4 linked regions of the Homo sapiens genome follow. The protein of the gene in region 1 purifies or fractionates together with the protein of each later gene. This does not show direct contact. Each region holds a gene or a part of one and is shown in the gene's direction. Other genes may lie near its edges. The genes, in order: MYO1C, BAZ1B, SMARCA5 and TWF1.

Evidence for each region.
Region 2: the proteins of MYO1C (region 1) and BAZ1B purify together in Homo sapiens (affinity purification with western blotting; 3 studies listed by BioGRID, with this or other methods). This does not show direct contact.
Region 3: the proteins of MYO1C (region 1) and SMARCA5 purify together in Homo sapiens (affinity purification with western blotting; 3 studies listed by BioGRID, with this or other methods). This does not show direct contact.
Region 4: the proteins of MYO1C (region 1) and TWF1 purify together in Homo sapiens (affinity purification with mass spectrometry; 2 studies listed by BioGRID and IntAct, with this or other methods). This does not show direct contact.

The regions. Positions count from the first base shown.
Region 1 is NC_000017.11:1,489,671-1,496,862, reverse strand, and holds the start of MYO1C (unconventional myosin-Ic), read left to right. Parts: upstream 1-4,176; 5' UTR 4,177-4,375; coding exon 4,376-4,450; intron 4,451-5,183; exon of another isoform or gene 5,184-5,263; intron 5,264-5,917; exon of another isoform or gene 5,918-5,935; intron 5,936-7,192. Other genes in the region: INPP5K (inositol polyphosphate 5-phosphatase K), read left to right, coding at 60-197, 461-544, 699-803, 984-1,040.
Region 2 is NC_000007.14:73,519,294-73,526,333, reverse strand, and holds the start of BAZ1B (tyrosine-protein kinase BAZ1B), read left to right. Parts: upstream 1-4,040; 5' UTR 4,041-4,400; coding exon 4,401-4,507; intron 4,508-7,040. UniProt on the Homo sapiens protein: Atypical tyrosine-protein kinase that plays a central role in chromatin remodeling and acts as a transcription regulator. Involved in DNA damage response by phosphorylating 'Tyr-142' of histone H2AX (H2AXY142ph).
Region 3 is NC_000004.12:143,509,368-143,516,716, forward strand, and holds the start of SMARCA5 (SWI/SNF-related matrix-associated actin-dependent regulator of chromatin subfamily A member 5), read left to right. Parts: upstream 1-4,334; 5' UTR 4,335-4,557; coding exon 4,558-4,734; exon of another isoform or gene 4,735-4,858; intron 4,859-5,077; exon of another isoform or gene 5,078-5,470; intron 5,471-7,349. UniProt on the Homo sapiens protein: ATPase that possesses intrinsic ATP-dependent nucleosome-remodeling activity.
Region 4 is NC_000012.12:43,803,308-43,810,914, reverse strand, and holds the start of TWF1 (twinfilin-1), read left to right. Parts: upstream 1-4,597; 5' UTR 4,598-4,669; coding exon 4,670-4,694; exon of another isoform or gene 4,695-5,084; intron 5,085-6,342; coding exon 6,343-6,420; intron 6,421-6,674; exon of another isoform or gene 6,675-6,739; intron 6,740-7,607. UniProt on the Homo sapiens protein: Actin-binding protein involved in motile and morphological processes. Inhibits actin polymerization, likely by sequestering G-actin. By capping the barbed ends of filaments, it also regulates motility.

The DNA.
Region 1 (7,192 bases):
GGCCTCAGAGGAGGGAATGATGCTGCGAGATTCAGCCCCCTTCCCACCCCCGTGTCTAGCTGAAGCCATTGGTGTCTGCTCCGCTGATCGTCCTGATGCCCGAGGACCTGTGGACCGTGGAAAATGACATGATGGTCAGCTACTCTTCAACCTCGGACTTCCCCAGCAGCCCGTGGGACTGGATTGGACTGTACAAGGTGATGTGGTGGCAAGGCAGGAAGTCCATCAGCGACAGCCCCTGGTTCATCCTTCCCGAGGGCTCCTGGGAGCTGGGCAGATGCTGACGAACTCACCCTCATCCACCCCAGCGGTTCTTCTGTAGCTAAAGGCTGGCAGTGAAGGGCGGCGGGGAGGCACACAGTACGGTAGCCAGGCCCAGCAGGGAGACCATCTCTTCCTTAGGACTTGCCTTAGGTCCCATGTCCTCCCTGACCACTGATGGCCTGACTCCCCCTCACAGGTGGGGCTGCGGGACGTTAATGACTACGTGTCCTATGCCTGGGTCGGGGACAGCAAGGTCTCCTGCAGCGACAACCTGAACCAGGTACGTCACCAGCACCAGGTACATCACCAGCAGGCAGGCCTGCCTCAGCACTCCTGTCTTGTGGAAGGAACAGAGTGCTGAATAACTTGTCACTCAGAGCTGGGTGGAGCCCAGAGCCCTGGAGCTGACCCCAGTCCTGTCCATCCCCCTCCAGGTTTACATCGACATCAGCAATATCCCTACCACTGAAGATGAGTTTCTCCTCTGTTACTACAGCAACAGTCTGCGTTCTGTGGTGGGGATAAGCAGACCCTTCCAGGTAAGCAGTGCTGGTGAGGGAAGGGGAAGGGTGAGGGCTTGAGCTCATCACTGGCTCCCTGAGGCCCAGGCCTGGGAGCCAGCCGGTACATGAGGGGCCGCTGCAGTGCAGGAACGGGGGTGATGGAAAGCACGGAGGAAGACCCGCTCTCCATTTCCACCACCTGCTTTATCCCTGCAGATCCCGCCTGGCTCCTTGAGGGAGGACCCACTGGGTGAAGCACAGCCACAGATCTGAGCCAGGATGGGAGTGAATCCCAGGCGGAGGCCAGAGCTGGCAGCCAGCTCTGCCTTTCCACTGCCGGGAGTGCTGGGGGCCCAGCCTGGCCCCCTGAAGAGACAGCCAAGTGTCGTCCACATACTCCTCCCAGAGTGAGCTCTAACCAGGCTCATTTGCTCTCTCCACTACTCATCTCTGGAATTAGCCGCTTAAATACAGGTTTTTGTTGCTGAGATGTGAGTGAAACCAGCTAGTGTGTCAACAGTGAAGACCTGGGGACAGTTCTGCGTCTCATTTCTGGATTCCTACCCCCTCTTCTAGTCTTGCCCAAGTAGTCCTGCCAGGCACATGCCCCATTTGGCACAGGCCTGCATTCTTGTCGTGCCGTCCTGGGCCTCAGGCTGTCTGGGAGGGGAGATGCTCACATTTGTACAGGCTACATAGACTGGTGCAAGCAGTGCTGGATTCCAGGAGTCTTGGCATCTCATAGCTTGTCCCCGTGAGGAGTGAGCAGAGGGTCTGGGATTTCTGCTTTCAGCAAAAGCAGTCTGACTCAGTGGGCAGAATGGAGGGGCCCCTCTAGCCAGGCTCTTACGCCATGGTTATGAGCAGGTTGATGAGGGTCCTTCGGCCAGCACAACCTTCCTCCCTACTCACGGCATGGAGTCTGACTGCATGGAAGTTCCAGATCCTGACAGAGAGAACTGGGAAGGATCCAGGTTCGCTTCCGTTGGTAGCTTGAGTCCCATGCCTCCACCCTGCCATCTGAGGAAGGGGTGACAAGTGGTCAAGGAGCTGTGGCCACAGACTTTTCCAGGGTGGTCCTTGGCAGGTGAGGTGCGTCTGTGCCACCCTTGTCAGGAGCCATTGACGACGGGCCCCCCCTGGACCCCCCGGGACCTCAGAGTGGGGGCAGGCAGAAGGGAGAACCAGCTCAAGACATTTTGGAGGATCTGGCCCTGGGGTTCTTCAGAGAACACCCTCTAGGGGCTTTGGGGACATGGCCTGTCCCCACATCCAGCACTTGCCTCCGCCATGGTCACTCGGCAGCCCTTTTCCCAGGAGAAGACACCTCTGGGAGCCTGCTCAGTGCTTGTCCTGCCATCCTGTGTCCTGGGACTGAGGGTTACTCCAGTTGCTCTGTGTTGCATACTCTCCCCCGCAAGCCTGTGTATGAAGAATTGTCCCCTGGCTTCCAGCAGGCCATGGCTGGCTGTTTTGTGACTGTTACATTGTGCAGGGGTAATTATTAGCGTGGCTTTTACACTTGCGTGTGACTGATGATTGGGGGGTGGGGGTACGGTGATGGGCCTGGGACTAGCTGTAGATTCCAGGAACAGGGACCCTGTAGATCCCAACTAGACTTCTGTGTCTGAGATTTGCAGAAGTGGCCAGGACTGGGGCTAGGATGAGGTTCTAGAATGGTGAGCCTCTGGGGCCCTAACCAGGTGGAGCATGCCATCTATGCCGGTGGCCGCTTAATGTACTCTGTTAAGTCAAATGAGCTCTTGTTCATCCCTCCTGACCCGCTGCTCTGCATACCCTGGTGTTGAGCCTTCTGCCTGCGTTAACCAGTCCAGAATGCCACCATCTTCTCTTTCTGCCCCACTTCTCCTCAGCCCCTTCTTGCTGAGTTTTCCCCCATGGTAACCTATCCCTGCCCCCAACACATATACCTAGGGACCTCCAAAGCCCTCACTTGCCCACCTGTTCCTTCTCACATGCACAGCCATCACGAGGGTTACTGCATGGCACCCTTCATTGGGCAGATGGGAAAGCCAAGGCTCAGAGAAGTGGTACAGTCTCTTCAAAGTTCCAGGCACCTGTGGTTTCCCACAGGACCAGAAACAGGAATGGGGTCTGAACCCACCCGCAGAGCGGTCTCAGTAGTCTGTAAAATACAGATGATGTCCCTATTCTCAAGATTACTGTGGGAGAACAATTGCAGAAAGTGTATCGCACTAGACCCGCCTCCCCGTTCTGATTAATGCGGCCCCGGGGCTTGACCCCAGGGGTCCCCCCACATGCTCACCTCCCCCGTGGTGAACTGAGGTCGCCACACACCCAGCCTCCTGTGTGGGAGGGGTGAGCCCAGCAGTGATTGAGAGGCGGAAAGGGGAATGGGGGGTGCTCTCCGTCCTCTGGGCCCCAGTCAGGATATGGCCGTTCTGGGTCCACCCCGACCCACTGGGTGGAAACAGGAAATAAGTGAGACCTGGTGTGCACTGGGTCTACGCCTGGCTCCACGGCTGATAAGGGCCATTGTGTGGCCGCCGGGGATGAGCCTGCTCTGGATAGATGTGCTTCCCGGAGGAAGGAAGGAAGGCTTGCTAGCTTTTCCGGGGCGGGGGAAGCTGTGGGGAGAGAGAAGGGTGCCGGGGGGAAGGCCCCTGCCTATGGGGCTGTCGGTGCCAGCACACACCCACGGGACTCAGCCCTTCCTATGCCAGCCTCTCCCTCTGGAAAGGTCTGTTTCCCCTATCCACTTCCCTGTTCTTACTTCCTATAAGGAATGGCTGGAGACTGGAGGGCTCAGTCTCAGGCCAGGAAAGTGTCAGCTGTGATTTAGCAACAATAAAAATAGAAAAGCAGGAACATCAGGGGTGGGGGTCACCTGGGGGTACTGTTGAAACGCAAGGGATGAACAGGGCTAGAGGTTGCCCACACCCAGGGAACCCAGGAACTAACCTCACAAGCTCTGAGGCTCAGAGGAGGGTAAGCCAAGAGCTTCCTCACAGCGGGACAGCCCCCTGTCCGGGCCCTGCATGACCAGGCCCCAGCAGCCCTGGTCTCTCAAACTCATGGTGGGGGCTCACCTGCTGTGGGGGGCAGCCCCGTTGAGGGGATGTGCAGGAAAGCCAGTGCCTACTAACGGGTCCTCTTGGCCTAGGGGAGGGCATGCCGTCTGGTTTGGGGAGTGGGCCCCGTGCTCTCTAGGTGGTACCAGAGAGTGGGCAGGAGGAGGGGCCCAGCCATAGAGCTGCCGTGGGGATGGGGGGAAGGGGAAAGGCGTCCTAGCCTTTGACCTGGAGCCCAGGGTCCCCCATGGGTGGCTGCATCGGCTCCTCTGGTTACCTGGGACAACAGGCATTTCCTCCATCCCCAGCCCCTCCTCTTCCTGCTCCAACCATCCGGGCCAAGAGGCCTCCCAGTCAGACCTGGACGGCTCCAGCCGTGTCCTGAGGAGCTGGACCAGCCACATCCCCTGGGGCTGCAGTTGAAGCAGAACCAAGTGGCCATCCCGGCGTTAGACCGTAGGTTCCTGGTCCCGGAGTGGTCGGAGCCCGCCAGTGGGCAGGCAGCTCTTGCTCACAGGCCGCGGTGCCCAGGCCGCTGGCTCTCCGCAGGGCGGAATGGCGCTGCAAGTGGAGCTGGTACCCACCGGGGAGATCATCCGCGTGGTTCATCCCCACAGGCCCTGCAAGCTTGTAAGCTGGGATGCTCTGGGCTGGGAGGAGGGTGGGAGCGTCTCCCCAAGGCCGGGCAGCCCCTCTCAGGCGAGCCCTCGGGCAAGAGCTGAGCAGCGGGGAGGGGTTCCGATCCTTGGCGGGGCCAGAACAGACTGAACAAGACGGGGTGAGTGGAAGAGTAAGGATGCAAGGGCCACTAGCAGCAGGATTTTTGGAAGTGGAGGTCTGGGCTTGACTCTTCCCCGGCTTCCCGAACCTCAGTGGGCAGAACCGTGAATACTGGGCACAAAAGGCAAGTGCCGGCTGCTGTGAGGTCGAAGGACCAGGGCATGGAAGCTCCAGGCTCAGTCAACGCCCCGCTCCTCTCCAGTCCGCAGGGCTGGGACCGCCCAAGACTCAGAACAGAAGGACGGTGTGGGAGGTGGGTGAAGGGTCACGGGTGGGTAGAAACGGGGGAGCGCGGCCCTGGCCCGGCCCGCAGGAAGGGGCTGGAGATGCAAAGGGCCCGGAGGAGGGAGAAAGTCGGGCGCCCCCACGCCCCCAGCAGCGCGGCGGGGAGCCGGGTCTTCGGCCGGAGGGGCGCGCGCGTGTTCGCTGTGGCCCCGGGAACGGGCCGAGGCGGGGGCCGCACGCACCGAGGCTTCGCGGACGCGGCCGGGGCTGAGGCGGGGCGGGGCGGGGCCGGAGGGTGCGCGGCCCTGCCCGGGATGACGACAGGCTGCGGCCCGGCCCCCGGCGGGCCCTGGGCGGGGAGAGTGCGCCCGGGCCGCGGATCCCCAAGCCCGCCACGCCGCCCAGCCCGGCCCCGCCCGCGCCGGAAGAGCCACGCCGGTGGGTACTCGGGGCGCGGGGACGGCGGCCGCGGGGGGCGGGTGTGGGGAGCGGGCGGCCGGGCCGGGAGCCGCCGTGCACGAGGCAGGGGTCACGGCCGGGGATCGCTGGGGCCGAAGAACGGCCGCGTGGACCCGTGCGGGGGGGGGGGGTCCCACGACCCGGAGGCGCCGGCGCAGCCTGGTGGAGACTTAGATTTACCTGCGGGGAGCGGGAGGCGGGGAAGAGCGGCCTGGGCTGCAGGACCCAGGACCCTGCGCGCCCTTCGGGCCCCGCCCGCAGCCCTGCTCCGCCTCTGGGTTCCGGAGAAGCCGCCTAAACCCGCCCCTTCCCGTTCTCCGCCCCTGGGGCCCAGCGCGCCCCGAGTGTGACGGGCGGGGGGCTCCGGGGTGGCCGGAGAAGGAGGATGGCCACGCGGCCCTCAGTCCTCACGCTCCGGCCTCCCGCGCACACGCCTGGCTCTGAGATTCATTCATTCATCCAGGGGTCCGGGAAGGGGTGACTGAGCCCCACCGTGTGCCTCGCTGCGTGTAGGGAGTGGGAGCCGTCTCCTGGGAGGGACTGACAAGGAAACAGCTGATTCCTGCGGGGTGCGATAAGGAGGCGCTGCGTGTTTGGGAGAATCAGGAAGGGGTTCTGGAGGAGGTGACACCTGAGCCGAGTCTCAGTGAGGTGGGCAGGGAGAGTGCCCCGGGCTGGGGAAGCCGCAGGTGCAGGCACTGAAGCTTGGACTGGCTGGCGACGGTGCGAAGGCCCCCTCCTGGGGGGAGGGGTGGGGGGAGAGGGGACTGGAGCGGGCCATCTGGCACATCGGAATGCAGGAGCAGTGGGGTAAACTGGGGACAGCAGGGGGGTCTCGGGAGTTCATAGGCAGGGTCCTGGTAAGCAGCAGTGAGTGTGAATCATGGGCCTGGCATATGGAGGGTGTCCTAAACCTTCACTCTATGAACATGAGGTGTTGATTTGATTTGTGTTGCCCCAGAGGAAATGGATTGGTAGGAGGAAGGCAAGGAGGCCAGTTAGGCTGCTGTCTTGGCCCAGGTAAGGAGCAGTGATGGAGGTGAGGTTTTTGTTTGTTTTTGTTGTTGTTTTGTTTTGTTTTGAGATGGAGTCTCGCTCTGTTGCCCAGGATGGAATGCAGTGGTGCGACCTCTGCTCACTGCAACCTCCACCTGCCGGGTTCAAGCTATTCTCCTGCCTCAGCCTCCTGAGTAGCTGGGATTACAGGTGTGTGCCACCGCGCCCAGCTAATTTTTTTTTTTTTTTAGTAGAGACGGGGTTTCACCGTGTTAGCCAGGATGGTCTCAATCTCCTGACCTTGTGATCCACCTGCCTAGGCCTACCAAAGTGCTGGGATTACAGGCCTGAGCCACCGCGCCCGGCCTGGAGGTGAGGTTTTAGCAGGTCGTGACTACTTGGTGTGAGGAGTGGAGGCAGGAGAGCAGGCCTGTTAATGCCAGGCTGTGATGACCAGCTCAAACAGTGCCACCCTTCTCTCTACAAGGACATTAAACAGGGAGTACAGGTTAGGGGTCAAAGGCCCTCTTTTTTTTTTTTTTTTTTTGAGACAGTGTCTCTGTCACTCAGTCTGGAGTGCAGTGGCATGATCTCAGCTCTCTGCAACCTCTTCCTCCAGGATTCAAGCAGTTCTCCTGTCTCAGCCTCCCAAGTAGCTGGGATTACAAGCGTGTGCCACCACACCCTGCTAATTTTTTGTATTTTTAGTTGAAACAGGGTTTCACCATGTGGGCCAGGCTGGTCTGGAACTCCTGACCTCAAGTGATCTTGCCTGCCTTGGCCTCCCAAAGTGCTGGGATTACAGGCATGAGCCACCGCTCCTGGGCCGTTTACTTTTTTTTTTCCCCCATACAAATTTATGTTAACATGTTATGGGTTTATTGCTTTGTTTCTTTGTTTGTTTGACACTGG
Region 2 (7,040 bases), on another chromosome or scaffold:
AGGATCACTTGAGCCTGGGAGGTGGACGTTGCAGTGAGTTGAGATTGTGCAACTGCACTCCAGCCTGGGCAACAGAGTGAGACCCTATCTCAAAAACAAACTAATAATGTAGTCATTATAAAAACATAATCATAAAATATAGAAAAATATAAAGAAGAAAATCACATCAATTGTAATTCCAGTGAAAAAGGAGGGGTGAAAAAAAAGAAAAGAAAAAAAATTGTAATTCCAGGCCTGGTGCGGTGGCTTATGCCTGTAATCCCAGCACTTTGACAGGCTGAGGAGGGAGGAAACCTTGAGGCCAGGGGCTTGAGGCCAGCCTGGGCAACACAGTGAGACCCCATCCCCGTCACCGTCTCTACAAAAAAGAAAATACTTAGCAGGACATGGTGGTGTGTGCCTGTAGTCCCAGCTACTCTGGAGGCTGAGGATCTTGAGTCCAGGAGGTCGAGGTTGCAGTGAGCTGTGATCCCCCACTGCACTCACTCCAGCCTGGGCGACAGTGCAAGATCTTGTCTCAAAATGAGACAAAACGCAAAAACCATAAATCCATTTCCCCGAGATGAGCACTGTTCTTTATTTGGGGTCTCTTCATAAGCTCTATATGGTTCCTGAAGCTCAAGTTTCTGTACTGTGACCACCAAGCCCCACCTCCAGCTCCCACTTCCTCCCTCAGAATTTCCGGCTGTGTTCTGGATGGCTCTTCAGGGTACCTGGAGTTCACATGGCTGAAACCAAGCCCATTACCGATTTTCCCATCTCAGATCCCATCTTCACCAATCCCAGCAATGGATTCTAGCCCACAGCGGACCCAAGCGCTGAAATGATTATGGTGCCCAGTTCACATGTGCAAAGTGAGATGCTGTTCTGAAATATCAAATTGTTTTCTTTTGCTTTTTTTTTTTTTTTTTTGAGATGGAATTTCGCTTTATCGCCCAGACTGGGCACCATCTCAGCTCACTGCAACCTCTGCCTCCCGGGTTCAAGCAATTCTCCTGCCTCAGCCTCCCAAGTAGCTGGGATTACAGGTATGCGCCACCACGCCCGGCTGATTTTTGTATTTTTAGCAGAGACGGGGTTTTGCCATGTTGCCTAGACTTGTCTCAAACTCTTGGCCGCAAAGTATCCTCTCTCCTCAGCCTCCCAAAGTGCTGAGATTACAGGTGTGAGCCACCATGCCTAGCCCTGTAATTCCCTTCTAAGTAGTCACTCCGATTCAGCCATTACAGAATATATCAGGATGGTCACTTCCTTTACCATTCTCATCTGATATATTCTGCCTCAAATCCTCACATTTTGGGCACACGATCTTGAACTTCCAGGCTTCACTCTGCTGTTCTGTCTATAATGTTCGTCCCTCCTTCTCTGTCTAGAGAACTCTTTTCTTTTCTCAATTAACTCAAACGCTATGTGCTCTGGCAAGGCTTCTCCTGCTGTTCTTGGGAGAAAAGTCTACTGCCTCAAGGAAAAGGAACCGAGATCTTTTCTGCTAGGTGATCAGAGGAAACTTCACAGAGGTAGCTTTTGACCTAGACCTCCTAGTGGGGATAGGAGATCCTTGAGGTGAGAAGAAAAGGAGATAGAGGTCTGACATTAGGAGACTGCATTTAGAGACACCTCGCAGTCTAGCCCCGTTGAAGGACAGGCTGGGAAGGTACAGCTGGGAAGGTACAGGCTGGGAAACTTTAAAGTGAAGTTCTTTAAACTAAGGGAGACAGTTTAATAGGGAGATAACTTAATGAGTGTGTTTTTGATTGTACTGGAAAGCCAAACAAATTCTGGATGTGGGTGTTGTCTGCTTGGAGAAGCAACTGAAATGCTCCCCATTTAATAGCATTAAAATAGTTGATGCTATTTTCTTATTCTGCACTTTGTATAGAACTGTGATTATTATTATAATTTTTGAGACGGAGTTTTGCTCTTGTTGCCCAGGCTGGAGCGCAATAGCACAAACTCGGCTCACCGCAACCACCCCCTCTCGGATTCAAGCGATTCTCCTGCCTCAGCCTCTCGAATAGCTGGGATTACAGGCATGCGCCACCACGCCCGGCTAATTTTGTATTTTTAGTAGAGACAGGGTTTCTCCATGGTGCTCAGGCTGGTTTCGAACTCCCGAGCTCAGGTGAGGCGCCCGCCTCAGCCTCCCAAAATGCTGGGATTACAGGCGTGAGCCATCGTGCCCGACCAAACGTACCTATTTCCCCCCCCCCCCCGCCTCCCTGAGACGGAGTCTCGCTCTGTCGCCCAGGCTGGAGTGCAGTGGCACGATCTCCGCTCACTCCAAGCTCCACCTCCCGGGTTCACGCCATTCTGCCTCAGCTTCCCAGTAGCTGGGACTACAGGCACCCGCCACCACGCCTGGCTAATTTTTTGTATTTTTAGTAGAGACGGGGTTTCACCGTGTTAGCCAGGATGGTCTCCATCTCCTGACCCCGTGATCCGCCCGCCTCGGCCTCCCAAAGTGCTGGGATTACAGGGGTGAGCCACTGCGCCCGGCCCAGACGTACCTATTAAAGAGACATCCTGGCTGGGCACAGTGGGTCACGCCTAATCTCAGCACTTTGGGAGGCAGAGGCGGGACAATTGCTTGAGGCCAAGAGTTCGAGACCAGTCTGGGCAACAAAGTAAGACCCTGTCTCTACAAAAAAAATAAAAAATAAAAGGTAGATCCAATTCATTCAAATAGTATTCACTAGCACCTACAATGTTCCGAGCCAGGTGCTGAGTATCATGGGAGAAAAAAAAAAAAAGCCAGAGTCACAGCTCTGGCAGGGCGTGGTGGCTCACGCCTGTAATCCCAACACTTTGGGAGGCCGAGGCGGGTGGATCACCTGAGATCAGGAGTCCGAGACCAGCCTGACCAACATGGTGAAACCCCGTCTCTACAAAATACAAAAAATAGCCGGGTGTGGTGGCGCGCACCTGTAGTCCCAGCTACTCGGGAGGCCGAGGCAAGAGAATAGCTTGAACCCGGGAGGGAGAGGTTGCAGTGAGCCGAGACTGCACCACTGCACTCCAGCCTGGGCAACAAGAGTGAAACTCCGTCTCAAAAAAAAAAATAATGATAATTTTGGGAGGCCTAGGCGGTCGGATCACCTGAAGTCGGGAGTTTGAGACCAGCCTGACCAACATGGAGAAGCCCCGTCTCTACTAATAATACAAAATTGGCCGGGCGTGGTGGTGCACGCCAGTAATTCCAGCTACTTGGGAGGCTGAGGCAGGAGAATCTCTTGAACCCGGGAGGCGGAGGTTGCGGTGAGCCGATATCGCGCCATTGCCCTCCAGCCTGGGCGACAGAGCGAGACTCCGTCTCAAAAAAAACAAAAACCAAAAACCAAAAAACTAAGTACGTCTTTTAATCTATTTCTCCAAAGAAGCTTCTATATTCTACTTTCCAGCCAGCCCCTAGAAACAAGCAGTATACTTCTACCCAGATCTCAACCACACTCCCGCCCAGAAGTTAACTCTGGGGTGAGCAAAGCTGGCCCCCACGTTGTCCTTCCGCAGAACCTTTGGTAGGGTAAGCTCCCGGGGCCACTTCCCGCCAACCCCTCCCTGCAGCCCAGCCCCACCCGCGCATCCCCGGGCGTGGCCGAGCACGGCGCCTTTAAGAAGGGGGAGGCGCCCAAGAGGAAAGACAAAGCCCCTGGCCGCGCGCTCACCCTCCCCCTCCGGCGCACCACACGGACAGTGGTGCCCGGATGTCGGTGTCGCCGTCGGTGACAGATGGCGCAGTATCTGTATATGCGAGGGGCTTCTCCGGCTTGACCTCTTTGAGTTCTCGTCCTCTCCATCCCCCGCTGTCCCCCACTTTTAACTCTGCCGTCGGAGGCCCGCACGCCTATCACGGGCGCTTACATAACGTGACCTTTCACCTCTTCAGACTGCCCTCTAGTGCGCTGCAACCCAACTACGCGACAGGGGCAGGGGGGCGGGACCCAGGCGCGGAGCGGCAGCTCCTCCGAGCCAATAGGCTGTGAGCGCTGACCAGCTCTCCGCCTATTGGAGCATTCGCCACCGGCGCCACGGGGGAGCAAGTTAGTGTGTGCGTTGGCCGGGCCCGGGGGAGGAGGGGAATCTCCCGCCATTTTTCAATAATTTCCTCCGGTGCTGCTGAGGAGGAGTCGTGACTGCCGGCCGCCGGGACCCGAAGCGGAGGTCGGCGGGGGGCTGCTGGGAGGCGCGGCGGTGTGCGCGGGAGCTCTGCGCCGTGGCGTTCCGCTCCATGACTGTCGCGCGGCCGCGCCGGCGGTGAGGGAGCCGGAGTTCGCGCCGCCCTCTCACCCCTCCCTTCCCCCACCCCACCCCCGGGCGCCTGGCGCTCGCTCCGGGCCGCGGGGCCTAGTGCTGCGCCGCGGGGCCGGCCCCAGCAGCCGCCAGTCCCCACCGCCGCCGCCGCGATGGCGCCGCTCCTGGGCCGCAAGCCCTTCCCGCTGGTGAAGCCGTTGCCCGGAGAGGAGCCGCTCTTCACCATCCCGCACACTCAGGAGGCCTTCCGCACCCGGGAGTATCCTTTTCCAGCCGCGCGGGCCGGGCTGGGCCGGGCTGGGCCGGGGTAGGGCCTGGGGCTCGCGAGACCAGGTCAGCCGCGCATCCCCGGCCCGGGGCAGCTGTCAGCGCGCCCCGGCCGCTCGCGGGCCTGGAGGCTGAGTCTCAGCCTGCGCCCGCCGATCCTTCCAGGGGATCCGGCGGGGGGCGCGCACCGGCCCTGGAAGGAGAAGGGCCCGCTTCGGCCGCCCCCGGGGCCCCGCACTTTGTCCCGGGGCCTCGCCGGCGAGGAGCGCATCCCCCATCCCCATTACCTTCCCCGGGTTGGCTTTAGGCCTTGAGGACCCGAGAGGGAGGAGGAGGCGTGGGGAGGGGGAGCTAGGTTTTCTCCTTTAATTTTTACAAAAATTTTTTAAAAATTTAAATGAAACCTGCAGCTTAAGTTTTGAAATTGTACTCGCGCGGCCTCGTGATGCGGCGTGTGCAAGACTCAACTGCGTCTTACCCCGATCTCTGCGGGGATACTTGGCGTTTTTTTCGTCTCCCGAGGGGACTTTAGGCCGGGGATGAACTGACAGGACCCTGGGGCAGAAAACTAGGAATGAGATTCCCCGCTTAGAGGAAAGGGAGGGAAGGAAACTGCCTGTGGAGGAGCTGATGCCTGCCTTCCCTGGGCAGACACAGGTTTGAAATTTTGAAGGTTTAGAAGGAGATTGGTATTTGTTAAAATTAAACAAACAAAAAAACCAAGACGTGAAGTTTTTATGTTGTATTTTAGGAACATGAAATTGGATGTTTTACAAAGGAAGCATCCTCTCGTCATGACTAAGATTTCTTGCATAAGCATTATCTTTTAGTGAAAAGTTGTGCAGCTTTTATTTGCTTTTTTTTAATGGGTGCCAGAAGAATCGTTTTTGAGGCTTATCTGTAAAAAAAACAAAAACGATTTCGGAATCAAGCATTTCTTTGGTGACTGAAAGCTTTAAGAGTGAAGGCTAATGTGTTATGAGTTTTCTCAGCCCCTTCTGTTCGGAAGGACTTCATTTCTCAGTTTCTTGCTTGCTTCTGTATAGGAGGAAGTGTCTCTCAGAGTTATTTCATTTCTCCCTGATCCTCACTTTAACGCAGTACTTTAGAGGATAATCTCATTCTTGTTGGAGTGCAATTTGTGAGTGTCCCTTTGTGGGGAGTATACACACAAAGGGGCCTGGAAAATCAGTCCATGCTGGAGGAAGGCTCTTGGAGAAATAGAGCTGTAGCATCTTGGAGCTGAAGTGGATCTTGGAGGTGGTCGGGTCCTCGGGCTTGGTTTGCTGAGTTGGCCCAGAGAGTGGAGGTTGACTTGTTGAAGGTCAAATGATGAAAGAGGAGTAGAATCCACCGCTCTTCCTACCTCATCCCTGTAAGTCAATCAACAGAAGAAGGTGGAATGTTACTCCTTCACTTTCAATTAATTTAAATATTACCTCACTTTTTTGTCATTATGGTATAAGGTAAGGCACTTTAAAGTGGAGGGGTGGTGATCTGGTTTTTTTCTTGTCCTGTGAAGACTTGGAATGTTCTGGAGAAGTTCCACTAGCTCTACCAAATACTGCATTATACCGAAGTACCCCACTTTTTTTTTTTTTTTTTTTTGAGACGGAGTTTCCCTCTTGTTAACCCAGGTGGCAGTGCAGTGGCACGATCTGGGCTCACTGCCATCTCCGCCTCCAGGGTTCAAGTGATTCTCCTGCCTCAGCCTCCTGAGTAGCTAGGATTACAGGCGCGTGCCACCACGCCCGGCTAACTTTTTGTGTTTTTAGTAGAGATGGGGTTTTACCATGTTGGCCAGGCTGGTCTCAAACTCCTGACCTCAGGTGATCCGCCCATCTCGGCCTCCCAAAGTACTGGGATTAACAGGCGTGAGCCACCGCGCCTGGCCAGTACCCTACTTTTTAATACATTCGAATCGGCAGTGGAGTAGCAACTTGTGAGAATCCGACATATACTTTTCCAATGTCATTAATGTTTTGAGCCGTTGATGGATGCTCACACACTTTCAGATGATACTTTCTCAGGTCTGGTTCTAGCAGAGTATAAGAAACATGCCATAGAGAAGAGACAATTTCTAAGTATATTTCAGGTACTGAGCTATGTAAAAAATGGCTGTAGGAAGTTAATTTAGGACTGGCAACGCAGGCTTTTTCATATTATTGAATGAATGAAATTGAAATATATATATGAAGAGTTTTGATGGTAACAATTTAAAACTGAAACCGGAAACATTTTAAGTGGTATGTATTTAATAAACATTCTTCATTTTTTAATTTCCCATAACAGCATTTAAAACTGTTTTAACAAAAGAAGTCTTAAAACATATTATATATTGGGGGGAAATTGCTCTTTCGGGAATTTCTGCAAGTGGAAGCACTTTGAGGATGGTTTTTAAACAATTGTACTGTATGGTTGGCAGATTGGCATATTTCTTTATTAGGCTATTAGTGGTTTCATAGAGGAGAACAAATATGTGGTTAGGTAACAGCTGCCTTTGAAGTAGTATTCCCAGTTCTCAA
Region 3 (7,349 bases), on another chromosome or scaffold:
CTAGAACCAGCCCAACAAAAAAGAAATTATTTTTTCATGAGCAGGAAGAAATGCAGAGAAAACCTGAAAAACTTTGACTACATAAACATATGCATATATACCGAGCAGACACAAAGTCTCCCACTATTTAGTTGGTGACTAAATATGAGGGGAATGAAGGGAATATATCCTTACCTGTTTATTAACAGTACAGTTAATGTTTCTCTTTAACTGAAATCTCTGTACATTGACAAATGACCTATGTGGGAGAACTCTAAAAAAGATACATACAACATGTAATCATTGGTATCTGGTGTTGGAAATACCCATTCTTAGATACAAACTCAATACAGTTTTATTGTCTTGCAGTAATCAGACTTTATTTTCTTAAGCTTTGACAAAATGAGTTGCAATGAAGAGAGGTGTTGCATTTCTTCTTTGTCCTTGAGAAAACTTTAACTCCTTTCTGTTACCATTCAAGGACACAATGCTGAGAGAGCCCTGGCTCTTCGGCACATTTTTGTCCTCTGGCAACATCTCTTTGTTCCATTGTATTTCTGTACTGTACTTGCTGTTCTAGCACATTAAATCTAACAGAGGAAATTTTAGGTGTAAACTATGTATATACATATTGGAGATAGAACACTAACATTATTTTACACTGTAGCATTCTGTTGCTGGGAATACGACTAAAGCTCTAATCCTTTCTGGTGTTTTCTTGCTACCAAACCCCTTACCCTCCTCCTTCTTTGGTTCCTCTTCTTTCAACTAGACTCTAAACCTTAGGCTTATGATTCTCAAGGATAAGACTAACACTTGAACCCAGAACTCACTATATGTCAGGCACTGTATCATGTACCTTATACTGTCTCATTTAATTTTTATGACATCATAATATTATCTCAAAATAAAGCTAGGAAAATATAATAATAAAAAGATGAGAAAATTGATTTCAAAGAGGTTAGATAACTTGTCTGCATTCACACAGCTACTAAGTTCCAGAGCCTGCACTGGAATCTAGGCTTGCCTGCTCCCCAACCCACTCTTTTACCAACACATGAATTCTGTATTATGTGATCAATTCAACAACTAGCTGCTAGTTTTAGCCTTTTAGCAGGATTTTGTGATTTGGCCACCATATTAGTATTGCTATCTGCCTGAGGAACACAGCTAATGTCCCTGTAGCTGTTTCTAGGCTTCATGTCTTTTCTGTAGCTCTTCTCTGCTTTTCCTTTCTGGTTCTAAACTCTGCCAAAAATCTTTTTCTCTGTCACTTATGCTAGATAACTGAGTTCGAGCATTCTGTGTCCTCTTGCTAGTTTCCATCTTTTCTCTATAATTTTCCCCCGAATGATTCTAATACAGCTTTCATATGATCATATGAGAAACTCACATGTAAATGCACATGTTAAAAGACAATCGCCATTTTGGAGGCAATTTTTATTTATTTATGTGCATTGTTTTCCTTGCTATTTATTGCTTTCCTTAAATAGTTATCAGACTTAAGATCCTTTCATTTATATACCTACATATAACTTTAGGGTTTCCAGACCAAGACCCAAGATTTCTACCTAAGACTATAAAAAGTGAAGAAACATTTCGAATGCTAAATTAATGTTTTAGTCTATTTAATGTAAATATAAAAATATTATTCATCAAGTATTTATTAAGTATGTGTCAGGTTCCACCCTAGACACCACTTTCTTACCCTTCCACATAATTTTTTTTCGGTGAAAGAACATTTTTTAAAATTAAAAATAAGCTTTCTAAAAATGGGGAGATGTTGGTCAAAGGATACAAAGTTTTGGTTATACAAGATGAATAATTTCTGGAGATGTAATGCACAGCATGGTAACTATTGTTAATAATACTGTTTGCATAGTTGAAATTTGTTGAGAGTAAATCTTAAATGTTCTCACCATGCTGGCAGGCAGTAAATATAAGAGGTGATGTATATGCTTATTAGCTTGATTGCGGTAATCATTTCACAACGTGTTTATATATCAAAACATCACATTGTATGCCTTAAATATATACAATTTTGTGAATTATACCTCAGTAAAGCTGAAATTTTTTTAAAAAAAGTTTTCTTAATACAATAATAGGCAAATTCGGCAGCCTGGCACAGTGGCTGTCACCTGTAATCCCATCACTTTAAGAGACTGAGGCAGGTAGATGGCTTGAGCCCTAATTGTTGTTCAGGACCAGTATGGGCAACATGGCGATCCCTGTCTACACCCAAAAAATACAAAAATTAGCTGGGCTTGGTGGCATGCACCTGTAGTCCCAGCTACTTGGGAGGCTGAGGTGGGAGAATTGCTGGACCCCAGGAGGCTGAGGCTGCAGTGAGTCACGACTGTGACACTGCACTGCAGCCTAGGAGACAGGGCAAGCCACTGTCAAAAAACAAACAAACAAACAAACAAAAACAAAAAACCAGCAACGATCAGTTTCAATACTTTTGTAAATATGCTTCCAACTTTTATCTACATTTTTGAACTGTTAAACCAAATTTTTCAGTTAACACTTTATAAATTAACATTCTTTGGCTAGGTGCGGTGGCTCACGCCTGTAACCCCAGCACTTTAGGAGGCCTAGGCGAGCAGATCACTTGAGACCAGGAGTTTGAGACTAGCCTGGCCAAAACAGCAAAACCCTGTCTCTACTGAAAATACAAAAATTAGCCAGGCGTGGTGGTGCACGCCTGTAATTCCAGCTACTCCGGAGGCTAAGTCATGAGAATCCTTTGAACCTGGGAGTTGGAGATTGCAGTGAGCTGAGATCATGCCACCGCACTGCAGCCTGGGCGACAGAAACTGTCTGAAAACAAAACAACACAAAACAACCATTATTCTACATTAATGGTTGTTAAAGGTTAATAGTTCATTTTCTGGGTGTATGACAGTTTTAAACACCTAACTTTTAATACTGGATTCAGCCTACTGTTGTTAGCTTTTTGCAGTCATATATGAAGACTATGATGAACATCATTGTAGGTATTCATCTTTGCATATATCCTTAGACATTTCCTTATAGTCTAAGAACTAGCATTTCTAGTGGAGTGGGGACATTTTTCCAGATGTCCATTTAAGAATTATCATTCCATTAGTTAAAAAATTTGCAGGCTATATATTCAAAGGGGATCCCTTCTGTTTGGAATTCAACATAACCAGTTAGCTCAAACCTCAACTCTCGAAAAATGTGTCTCCTTTACTCAACAAACATTTAGAGAATACTGAATATGAGGAATAAAAAAAGATAAAAAAGACCCTGTACTGGGCAGGTAATCTACTGTAGTATGCAGATTCGTTATCAAACAGACTACAATGTATTTAAATTTTGTAGGCGATGAATGCACAAGGCCCTTAAGCTGCATTGAAGGCTGCCTAAGGCAGTATACAAAATCAGTGCTGAATATTTGTTAACACTTAAGGAGAATGTACGTTTTAATTTTCATGTTTGATGCTTGGGGAAAAGATTACATCGCACCACCTATCTTCCCCATATATTGATTATTCGTGTTTCTCACTTCCATGGTAGTGTGCACGTTATTTGCTTAACTTTGGCATATAAATTCAGAAGAAATATCATTTAACTCTGTGCCTAAGGAGGGTATTTAGAAATAACCGACGCAGCTAACATGAGAAGGCAAAAAAAAAAAAAAAGAAAAAAGAAAAAAATCACACTAACGGACTTTTTTTTTTTTTCTAACAACAAAAAACCGTGAGACTTCACTTGGGGTAACCATAACGTCGTCAAGGCTGTGGCGTCACGCCTCTAAGCGGATACGGCAGAAGTTTTGGGGCCAGACACAAGACTTCCAAGTTTGAATGGGCAGCGCAAAACCCAGACAAGTTTTCCGGTAGTGCCGCCAACCCCTGTCAGGCACAGAAGACACAGCGAGAACCGTGAGCCGTTACGAAAGCCTAAAACACTGAGCTCGCGTCCTGCCAAGCAGCAGGCGCACAAACCTACACCTCCGAGCGCTCCCTGGAGGTCCCGCCCACTCTTCTCTCCCGAGCCGGCTAGAGATCTGGAAGAGGGCGGGCCAAGGGTGAGGAGGGCAGTATGCGCATGCGCGCTCAGGACCCAGTCAGTGAGCCAATAAGGAATCTCGCGAGTGTTGAAAGTCGGTGGCGTAGGTCGTCGTCCTGGATGCTGGCGAGATAGATGTTATCTTCCAGAGGAAGAGGAGGAGGCGGCGAAGCGTTTTCCCAGCCTCAGTCTCTCTTTCGTTTTCCTTTTCCCTTCCCCCAACCCTCCGCCCTTCTCTAAATCAGCCGGCCTTCCTTGACCTCAGTGACCCGTCTGGCCCCGCCCACCCTCGTCGACGTGATTCCCGCCGTGAGGTAAGCGCCGGTGGAACCTAGAGCCCCGCGGAAGAGCAGAACGTTTGGGAGTGTGCAGCTCCTGGGCCCGGCTCAGGCCCGTCGCGGAGGCGCGGCGCAGGGGAGCGCTCGGGTGGGAGTCTCGCTCCTCCACCAGTTTATTGCGACGTAGCATCCAGGCCTAGGCCTCCCCGTCCATCCCCGCCGGACTCGGGCCTCTGGCAGCAGCGGGTGACGCAGACGGAACATCATGTCGTCCGCGGCCGAGCCTCCGCCACCCCCGCCTCCCGAGAGCGCGCCTTCCAAGCCCGCAGCCTCGATCGCCAGCGGCGGGAGCAACAGCAGCAACAAAGGCGGCCCCGAAGGCGTCGCGGCGCAGGCGGTTGCGTCTGCGGCCAGCGCTGGTCCCGCAGACGCCGAGATGGAGGTGAGGGCGACTTGCGGCATGGGGAGCGGGTGCAGCGGGGAGGAGGAGCTGGCTCCCTCGCCGGATCGTGGCGATCGGACGCAGAGCCGGGTTTCTCTCTCTGCACCAGACTCAGCTTCACACCCTGTGGATACGAAATGATGCTCTCACTCTTGCTCCCTTGTTCTTACCCTATTCGAGCTAAGCAAAATGGATTTCTGGCTCCTCACATTTAAATTATTTGTCTCTTTCGTGAATCCTGACAAATATTTGAACGCTCTCAGTGAACAGATGTTCTTGGTTACCGTGGCCCGGGGGACCCATCGTTTTTTTCCCACTAGACTCCCATAATTCCCTCTCCTACCTCTGAATGTGGTTTTTAGTTTCCACCAAACTTCGGGGAAGGGCGAGGAGATGACCCCTTAGGAGCGGGATGCACGGGCGGGGTGAAGGAGGCATTTAAAAGCAGCGCGTCCGAGGACTTGGGCCTCCTTTTCTTCTTCCCGGTCCTTGCAGGGGCGGTATCTGTTGTGGGCAGAAACAATGGCGAGAGCTGGATGGCCGAGTGCGCAGTGGGGATAAGCGGGGCGCAGCTGCTTCTGTGAAGGGAGAGAAGGCCCCTCCCAGGCACTATTCCACTGGAAGGGAAGCAACCAAGGCAGCAGCAGCTGTCTCGGATCCCCCGTCTAATTTAGGGGGGATGAATAAGTGTAGGAATGAATTAGAGAACCAGGCGCAGTTGGTTGGCTCTCAGTCCGGCACTTTTCTCTTTTTGGCCTCTGGCCTTAAGAAAAAAAAAAATTAGTACCACTCGCTGCCGAGACTTATGGGTTTGGGTTGGGCAGGGGATGCTGACAGTACTGAGGGGGCTGGAAAGATGGGGGAAGCTGCCAGGCGGGTAAATTGGATATGCTTCCAGGCTTTGCATCTGGGAACAAAGTAATTGCTCCTTCCAATTTTTATTTTCTTGGCCTTCGACCTGTTTTGAGATATTTTGTGAGTCGGAGCCCAAAGATTTCTGGGATTTTCCTATCCTTAGACAGAATGAAAGTAATACTGCTCCGAAGATGAGTCTTGATGCAGAATCATTATACAGTAAGAAAATGGTAGCGTAATTTACCATTGAGGCTTTTGGCACAGTAGTTATATTTGGGTAGCTGGGGTTAAGTAACATTAATGTTAGTAATCATTTAAAGAACTTTTAGTGGTGAGGGTAGGTTTAGTGACATAGGAACTCCTGATAGTTCCTGTAGTTTTGAGTGATTAAGATAAGATTACTTCCAAATTAAAATATATTCAGTGTTGCTTTTTTTTCCTTAAGGAAATGGTTCTTTTGGGTTACTAGGGCTCTTTAACTTGGATTTCTGTTCCAAGGCTTAAGGGGTTTGACACAAAGCAATTATGTGTAAATGTGCAGTTCTCTACAAAAATTGTTTATAGTTTTTCCTCAGCTTCTCAAAGGGGTCTGCCATCCAAACTTTGGAAAAATGAATGTTTCACCAGAGGTCTTATTAATATCTGAATGCAGAGTAATTTTAAGCCTAAAGCAAGTCAACATTTTTGACTTGAAGTTGCTATTTTAAATGAAAATTGATTTTAAGTTCAAACGTGAGTATAGATGTTATCACTACCGTATTAAATTAGTGATATTTTCATTTGCCAGATGGGGAAATTGAGTTCTACTAGGTAGAACCTGTAATAAAACTCGGATCTGCCTTTAAAAGTGAGCCGTTTCCCACCCATCTTGCTCTGCCATGTTCTTACCAAAAAAAACATATTTGGCGGTTCAATTTATTGAATAACATTGTTATTTTTACCTTCCTAGTATAGAAATATTAGGAATTTTATTTTTTTATCCATCTTATCACTGACACATTTTTTTTTTGGTTGACATTATAGTGTGATTTTTTTTTTTGTCTTTTAAAATGTCAGTTTCCTGTTTAACAAAATTCAGAATTACTGCAATTCATGATATAAACTAAGTTTGAGCACACATGCTTAATATATATGTCACAACTTAATCTGTTTTGCACTTGGAAAATGAATATTTTATAAATGACTTTTTCTTGTTTGGAAGTATGATCTAAGGTGTTTTTCTAAACAGAGTAAACCCAGCATTCATGAATTTTTTTTTTTTTTTTTTTTTGGTGACAAAGCTGATTTTCCCAGAAATAGCCTTCCTATGTATTCAGTTACTTTTTTTCTTTTTGCTTGATACTAATAGGTCAATGGAGCACTTGTTTTTTAGTTATCCTTTTGGCAGTGTGGAACTCTTCTGTGTTCATCCTCATCTCTATTGACTAGATTGATTAAATAGTCACCTGTATACCAATAATGTGATGTCAAGATGCCTGAAGCACATTTTATTTTTGTAGGTTGCATTTCATGGCATTTTGGAATTTTGTAAACTGGACTGGGTAGGTGGCTTTGTCACTTACATATGTAGACCAGAGATTTATGATGAACATAGGGTCACACAAGTGCCAAGGGTCTTAACAATGAAGTTAGACTTGACTTAAGGTCATTTTACCTTCTATTCCAGTACCGTACCAGATCTCCTCCCCACAACTTTTTGGTCACAGATAGTTTTATTATAGCATATATTGCCTAGCATAGATTTGTGCATCATTAATGAA
Region 4 (7,607 bases), on another chromosome or scaffold:
AACTCCTTCATTGGCACACCCCTAAATAAAGGTCACCATACTGACCTAGCCTATTCTGAAAAAACATAACAGATACATTGAAGCTTTATGATAAAGTATTTGTTATGGAGCAGCGCTTAGTGAAAGGGTTAATCTGTTTTGGATCCCAACCATGAGGCTATGATTTTCAGGCAGCTCCAAAGAGTAGTTTAGGCTGGAAGTGAAGGAGCTTTAACTCTCCCATAATCTCACTGAGCATCCCTGCCCTCTCGCCCTGCTTGTCAGTTTGCTATGAATGCCTTTCTTGAATTTATTTTAAAAAATACAGCAGATCTGAACAAAACAAACAAACCCTGCTATGCAAGCTCAGCTCACAGTTCCCCTTGCACCATCTTCCCACCAGATTGCAGATTCCAGCCCTAAATTTATCTAATATGGAAAGTCTGGAGTGGCCTGTGTTGCGATTACAGAAATACATAAAGGACAAGGAAGGTTGTCCCCGTTTGTGGACTCAGTATGAGATAATATCTCCTGTACATGCTATTTAAACGTTAGGGAAGGTTTTTGGGTGTTAATTAGCATCACTAGCAAAGACAGAGAAACAGAGAAAGAGAGCAAGCAGTATGTTCAAAGTGATTTGCAAATATTCCTATTAGGCATTTAAACCATCCTACCCCACATGACATGTTAGAGATAATGAGAAAGAGATTCAAGATGCTGTTGCTAAGGCACTTTTCCAACCCAGGGTGAAAATCTCACTATAAATAATACATCAAAAAGCTGGTTGCTTTGTGCTTTCCTGCACTTTGATTCCAATATGCATCCTTATCATTATCAACAATTCTTTTGAACCAAAGTGTTCCCTGTTTCTTTCATTGGAAAGTACGTATCATTTATTAATATTACTTCAGTCTATATTTTACTTGGGAAAATAATAAAGAAATATCATTTGCTTGAACTATTCCTTAACCCAGACTCTCTGTTCTGTTTTCTCAAGCACCACTGAGTCCGATAGGAATGAAAGAATTTTATCTTATATATTCCATTTCGTGAGGAGTTTTAGCAATCTTGTCAGGTGTTTATTGTGAATTGTTGAGGGTTATAATTACATGCATATAATAAAAGTTAATTTCAGTCAAGGTATGTTGCTTAATTCTTGATCCTCATTTTTTATAACCCAAAGGGTTACTTTTCTTATTTAATGCTTTATAAATCTAAGGACGTGTTACACAAAACACAGCAGTTCACAGGGCCCAGCGATATTGTGGTTTTATGAACCTATATAAGAAATCAACTTTGGATTGTTGCTTTTGAGGTTTGGAAATTCAATCTAACTCCATTTGCTCTGTTTTAAATGACCTTTTATTTTGAATCATACTGTATTGTAATGTATTGTGTTAGACTTAATTCTAACAAAATATGAAGCCTAACATACATTGAGCATTCATACATGTTAGAGCTTCATAAAGTCATATTTCACTTGATTTTCATGACAACCATGAGACATGGGTATGACATATAACAAGAGAGAAAATGGAGACTTAGGTTAAATAATGTTGTTCATGGTCATACAACTTCTATGTGTTTTTAAAAATTTTACAGCAGGGTTTCTTCTCTAGGAAAATCTAACGCAAATAGTGCAGCTCTTTATAATTACCTCACCAAGTAAAGAAGAAATGAATCTATCAAAAAGGTTTCAATTCAGAGAAGAAACAAGATGGATGGATGAATGATTTTTTTAGTTTCCTGTGTATATGCACTATACACAAACATGTATACTGCTCACATTAATGTGGCACGCATCATAGTCTCTTCTATGGTAAAAAGACTTTATGGACGCTGTGATTTTAAAATGTCATTATTTGGCAATTGACCACACAGATGATCTAGGTCAGAAGTCCTAAACTACCATTTCATAGGTCAAACCTGACTTGCAGTTATAGTTCTCTTTTTGTTTTGTTTTCCTACATAATTGAAATAGAGATTTTACATAAAATCCCAGTTTCCGACATCACTTGCAAAACATAAGATTGGTCACCTTGCGCTTGAATTCCCACAGAGCATCAGTCAGTCAGAATTGAATTGAGTAGTAGTAGCTCCTTTTTTTTTTTTTTTTTTTTTTTCTCCCCTTTGAGACAGGGTCTGTTGCCCAGGCTGGAGTGTAGTGGGGTGATCATGGCTCATTGCAGCCTCTACCTCCTGGACTCAAGTGATCCTCCCACATCAGCCTCCTGAGAGCTGGGACTACAGGTGTCAGCCATCCCACTTGGCCTAGTAGTAGCTCATTTTAGATGGATCCTGTGCTCCCTCTCATTGCCACAGTCTCCATTTATTAGCTTCATTCATTTATGTTATTTAACTGACCCCATAAGCATTTGTGTTTTGTGACCACCATCTTAGGTTCTAAACATTACCTCTACCAAACTGTAAAAAGTAGGAATTCTACACCTGTTTCCCACACCCAAGATCCATCTCCCCTCCTGTGATAATTGCCTTTCACTCATGGGCAGTGTATATTGGGTAAACCAGCCACCTTGGCCAAGAATGATTTGACACAAGCCAAGCAGGGTCATTCACGTGCTTTCTCTTAGGAACTTTAAACTTGGACTTAGAAGAGCTATGTAATCTCTGCATGCAGCTACAACCCTGTCAATTTGGAAAGTGTAGGGTAGCCATATTCAGCCATTTTGACTGCACAAGCAGAGAGATCTTATTTGGAGAAAAAGAAGAGAAAAGCAGAGGTGACAACCAAGTTGTCAAGATCTATAAGATCCTCCAATATCCTTATAATAAACCCTCTTATCTGCATACATTGTTTTCAAATGGTTTGTTTCTTACAGACACTTGTCTTAGCCTTGAAACCTGCTGACTTCCCAACTCTGTGGTTCAATTTCCAAACCTCTTAAAGTTAAAAAACAAAACCTGCTATTTTTTTCAGCTCGTCACACAGGATGTTGGTACTCAAAATAAGTCTATTATATATTATTTGTAAACTGTAAACTACCATACAAATCTAAGGTATTATTCTCATGACAGCTCTGGCAAATGTTCACTAAATGGAGACACAATAGATGAAGAAAAGTGGGAAAATATTTGTGGCTAGAGCAGAGCAAGGTACCCAAGACGCTTGCAGCTTTTAAGTCAAACTATTGTACTGGCAGTAAATAAGCACTTTCTGGTGGCTGTCAGGGTGGTCCCAACCTAACTAGACATTCCTCTTCTTCAGGACTGAGAATACAGTGGCCTTTCCCAAGCACGAATATGGAAGGATTATATTTTGCTCAACTATACTTTTGAGCAACGCCAACTTCCTTAAGCAATTTCCCCGAAGCACTAGGACATGAATCAGTCAAAATACTGCAAGTCAACTCTGCAATTTTCTCTCTGCTCAGCAATGTAGTCAAAAACTGGTAAATCAGGGTGAACCATTGTGTCAGGAAGAATTTGATTAGAATGAAACTCCTCCCTACATTTCTTAAATCCATACAAGTCATAAAACTCAGATTTAGTTTATTCCTGAATATGAGAATATGTCTGAAAAACAGAGCTCAGATAACAGGCAATAGAACATAACCTTGTTTGCTGTGATTCTTGTAAAGAAAAACAATTGCAGGCCTGTTCATCACTCATGAAAAATACATCGTATAGTACTGGAACAGTGATTAACTTGCACTTATATTATTGACCTGAATAAATTATTTCTTCATTAGCAGATTATAATTTTGTGTATGTGTCACTTCAAGGCCCTAAAAATAAGAACTAGCTTCCCACCTAGTAGCAGTAGAGAAGCAGTACCAAAAAAAAACCAAACCCCCCACAAAACTAACATTACCTTTCAGGAAGGAACTACATGTTTGTAAAAGCAGGAAAGGAAAAGATTTTTAAGTAATATCTGCTGCTACCTTACAAATCTGTCCAAGTGAATTTTGAATAATTACTGGATTAAATAATAAACTGCCAACCTAAAGCAGAGCAGGATTTGCAATGGTATAATCGACCACAGAGGGATACTCAAATCAGCTAATCTCTTAGTGGCTGTCTCTTTCCGGAGTGAAGAGAAAGATACACTGAGTCTCTAAATGTGTCCAGCTGAAAAGAAAAGTTAACAGTCTGAGATTAACTTAATTTAAAATCGTGGAAAAATTTGATGAGAGGCAGTCTATATTAATTCTTTCAAAACAATGGAGCAAGGAGAAGGCTTTTCTACACTAAACGGTATCGATTATAGGAAGAGTAAACCAAGAAAAATAATGTGCACATCTTTTTTAAGCTGGAAAATGCCTATTTGGTAAAATGATCACTTCCGTTTTTGAGCACCCCTTTGCTGAGGCAGCGAATGGCGGCGTCGGCGGGGTTGTCAGAGAGCAGACGTCGGAGCACTGAGCAGTCTAGATTCTGCGGCATGTCCCCCCCGGAAGAAGCGGGAGAGGCGGCGGCAAGAGCAGAAGCAGGACCCCAAGCAGAGAACTAGGATAGCGAGGCCGGGGGCTGGACCGCAGCCCGGCGGCCAGGAAGGGCGGCGGGGCGGCGGGGACGCTCGGGCACTCAGTCAACCTCACGGGGCGGGGCGGCCGCGGGTCGCGGGCGGATGACGCGCCGGGGCCGGCGGAGGAGCAGCCACTTCCTGGGGCCGCCGGCCGGGGCCGCTGGCTGCACTCAGCGCCGGAGCCGGGAGCTAGCGGCCGCCGCCATGTCCCACCAGACCGGCATCCAAGGTAACAGCGCCCGGCGCGACTCGCAGGGAAGGGGCTTCCGGGAGAGCCGGGAGAGCCGGGAGGGCTGCAGGACCGGCAGGGCTGGAGTCGGGCCGGGAGCTCCGGAAGTCGGTCTCGCGGGGCGAGCCGGGCCTCGGCGCCTCTCCGCGCTCCTGCTTCCCGGGCGCTGCCGGCCTGCGTCCTCCTCCAGCCCGGTCCCTGCTGCCGTCACGTTGCAGATTGATCCGAAATTCGGGGGAGCGAAGGAAATTGGCTTTCGAGGCGGCCTGGTTGAAGGGGGCGTGCCTTCCACCGTCCCCGACAGTCGCCCAACTTTCCCCCTTTTGGTCACGTAGGGAAGAGCTGGGACAGTGGAGGCGACTGGGGCTTCAGTACGCTGTCGAGAACCAGGCGAGTTTTCTTTTTCATGGTCCAAAGGAGAATATTACAGGACTTTGATTACAAAAAGAACCATGCCAGAATCTTTCTCACATCAGTAGGGGTGCTTCCCAAAACTCTCCCGCATTTTCTCTCCAAATAGGAAAATGAGAGTTATGTTCTGAGAAATCTCGAGTGTAAGCGTGTGTTTTGATCTTTTTCCTAGATACTCCCCAAGGGAAACTGATCTGTATGGTTGCATGTAATGCGTGCAGACAGTTCAATATGCAGTTATATCTGACCTCCATTATTTCCTGGTTTGAAATTGGGCAGCCTGCAGGTACTCACCTCATCAAGAGTCAAATAATATATCCCCGGGTTACTCGCGATCACTTAACGAGTTCTAGTGTAAACTCAAGCTCTTACTGTTAATAGCGAGTCTTTCTCCCAGATGAACACTTAATTGTATGTTTTATTCGTAAAGATTTTTGACACCACCGCACACATCCCCCTGCACGCACGCAGAAGCAAAATAGTCTCAAATCTGAAAACTTTGTTTTATTTATCCGCATTAATTTCGATATATAAATATGTAGTTATTGACTCTCATGCTTGAGCCTTATAGCAAGCACTACCTACTTACATAGTGGTTCTTGCTGCTAATAGACAACACAGGAACGAAATTAGAACGAAATTGAAGCTTTAATAGGAACACAAGGGTTAGTTATTAAATACATATTTATTCAATGAGTTTAATCTAGCTTTTGAGAAATGCAAGTTAGAAAAATATAACCAGAGTTAAGACTGAATGCATTTTATTGTCTTTTTCTTTAAACAAGTTAGGATATTTGATATATACTGTTGTTTTTAACGGGAAAATACAGAAAGTGAATTGATGAAGGAGTGTCTGTCATAAGCTTGAAACTGAATTAGAGAATGAAAGCAGGTTTTCAATATTTTTCAAAAGAGCAAGAAAAGTTTTTCAAAATTGTAATTTGCTCATTATTGGGTTTGAGTAACTTCAGTATATTCACCCCAGTGTTATTTCTGCACAGAATTATGTAGCTAAAACAGATTAGAATTATTAACATACTTTTAAAATGCTAATATTTATATTTCTTAATTGTATACAGTCTTCGTTATTTTATGCGGTAAAGTTTTATAATACTGATAATAAGGATGCTACATGCTCCAGATTTTTTCTTTGTATTCTAATTAACTTTTCCAATATAGATAGGAAAGTATTTATATGTAAGTATAAAAAGTTTACTTTCTTTATCTTTTTCCACAGCAAGTGAAGATGTTAAAGAGATCTTTGCCAGAGCCAGAAATGGAAAGTACAGACTTCTGAAAATATCTATTGAAAATGGTTAGTTAAATATTTTAAAATATTTTCTGTTCCTGGATTAGTGGCTGTTGTATTTTTAAACTTACTGTGTGTTGTCAGTGATTTGAACTATTAATTAATATGAAGCAAGTTCAAATCTTACGGTAACTTGGATTCCTCATATTTTGTGCAGGTCCCTATGGGCCCCTAATTTCATTCTGAATTATGTGACTATCAGGGAAACAGAAAGATGTTTTTTGATGTGACTTCTTCCTCTTTTACTTTTTGTGTCTCAGTTTCTGCACCACAGTCCATTTCTAATGTCAGTGCTTCCATCTCTGGAATGGAAATCACTAAACAGGTGATTATCAAAAAAAAAAAATAGTTACTTGTGAATTATTCAATTAAGTTTGTTTTTAAATATAAACAAAGGATATCAAACTCCCATTTTCTCCATTTGATTGCAACCTTTGCCACAGAAATGATCATTTCCCTTTCTTGTTTTGGGAAAGTTCTGAGAATATAACAAACTACAAATTGATTCTTTAAAAATAATTCTGTAAACAGGGAATCTGGTTGAGTGGGAGAATCTTTTAAATCAGGCAGATTTGAATTTGAACAATTATTGTTATAGGTACTCAGTCATAAATGAATATATTAAAATATTCCAGTGGCCTAATTTCTTAAATATCTGAAAATATTTTGCTTTGGAAAAGTAACTTGTTCTTTCACAAACTGGAAGTAAATCTAATTTGTTTTCTATTTTCTGCTTATATAAAAAATACCAGAATAGTTTGTAAAATATGCATTTGTTTACATACAACATTCAATAGGAATATATGTATATTGTAAAACAGCATATTTTAAAAATACTGAGCTAAAATTTTTAATGCCATCACTTCCTAAGTGACTAGTTAAGGAACTAAAATGGAAAAGTTAATCTAACTAGCATCTCTACGGAAGGAAAATGGCACTACTTCCTAAGTTATTATTTTCTGGTTTTACTTTTTTGTTTTGTGAAAATTTTTAAATAAGGAAAATTCCAAAGACTAAAATTGTATCATAAATACCTATATCTCCCCTTTATTAATAACTGCTAACATTTTATCTTATTTACTTCAAGCATTTTAGAAAATTCAGTGTTTTTCTGGTATAAGAGCATCCCCTTTAAACAATTTTGCTTCTGACCTCCTTACCCTGGGGCAACTACAATTGGGAGTTCTGATACT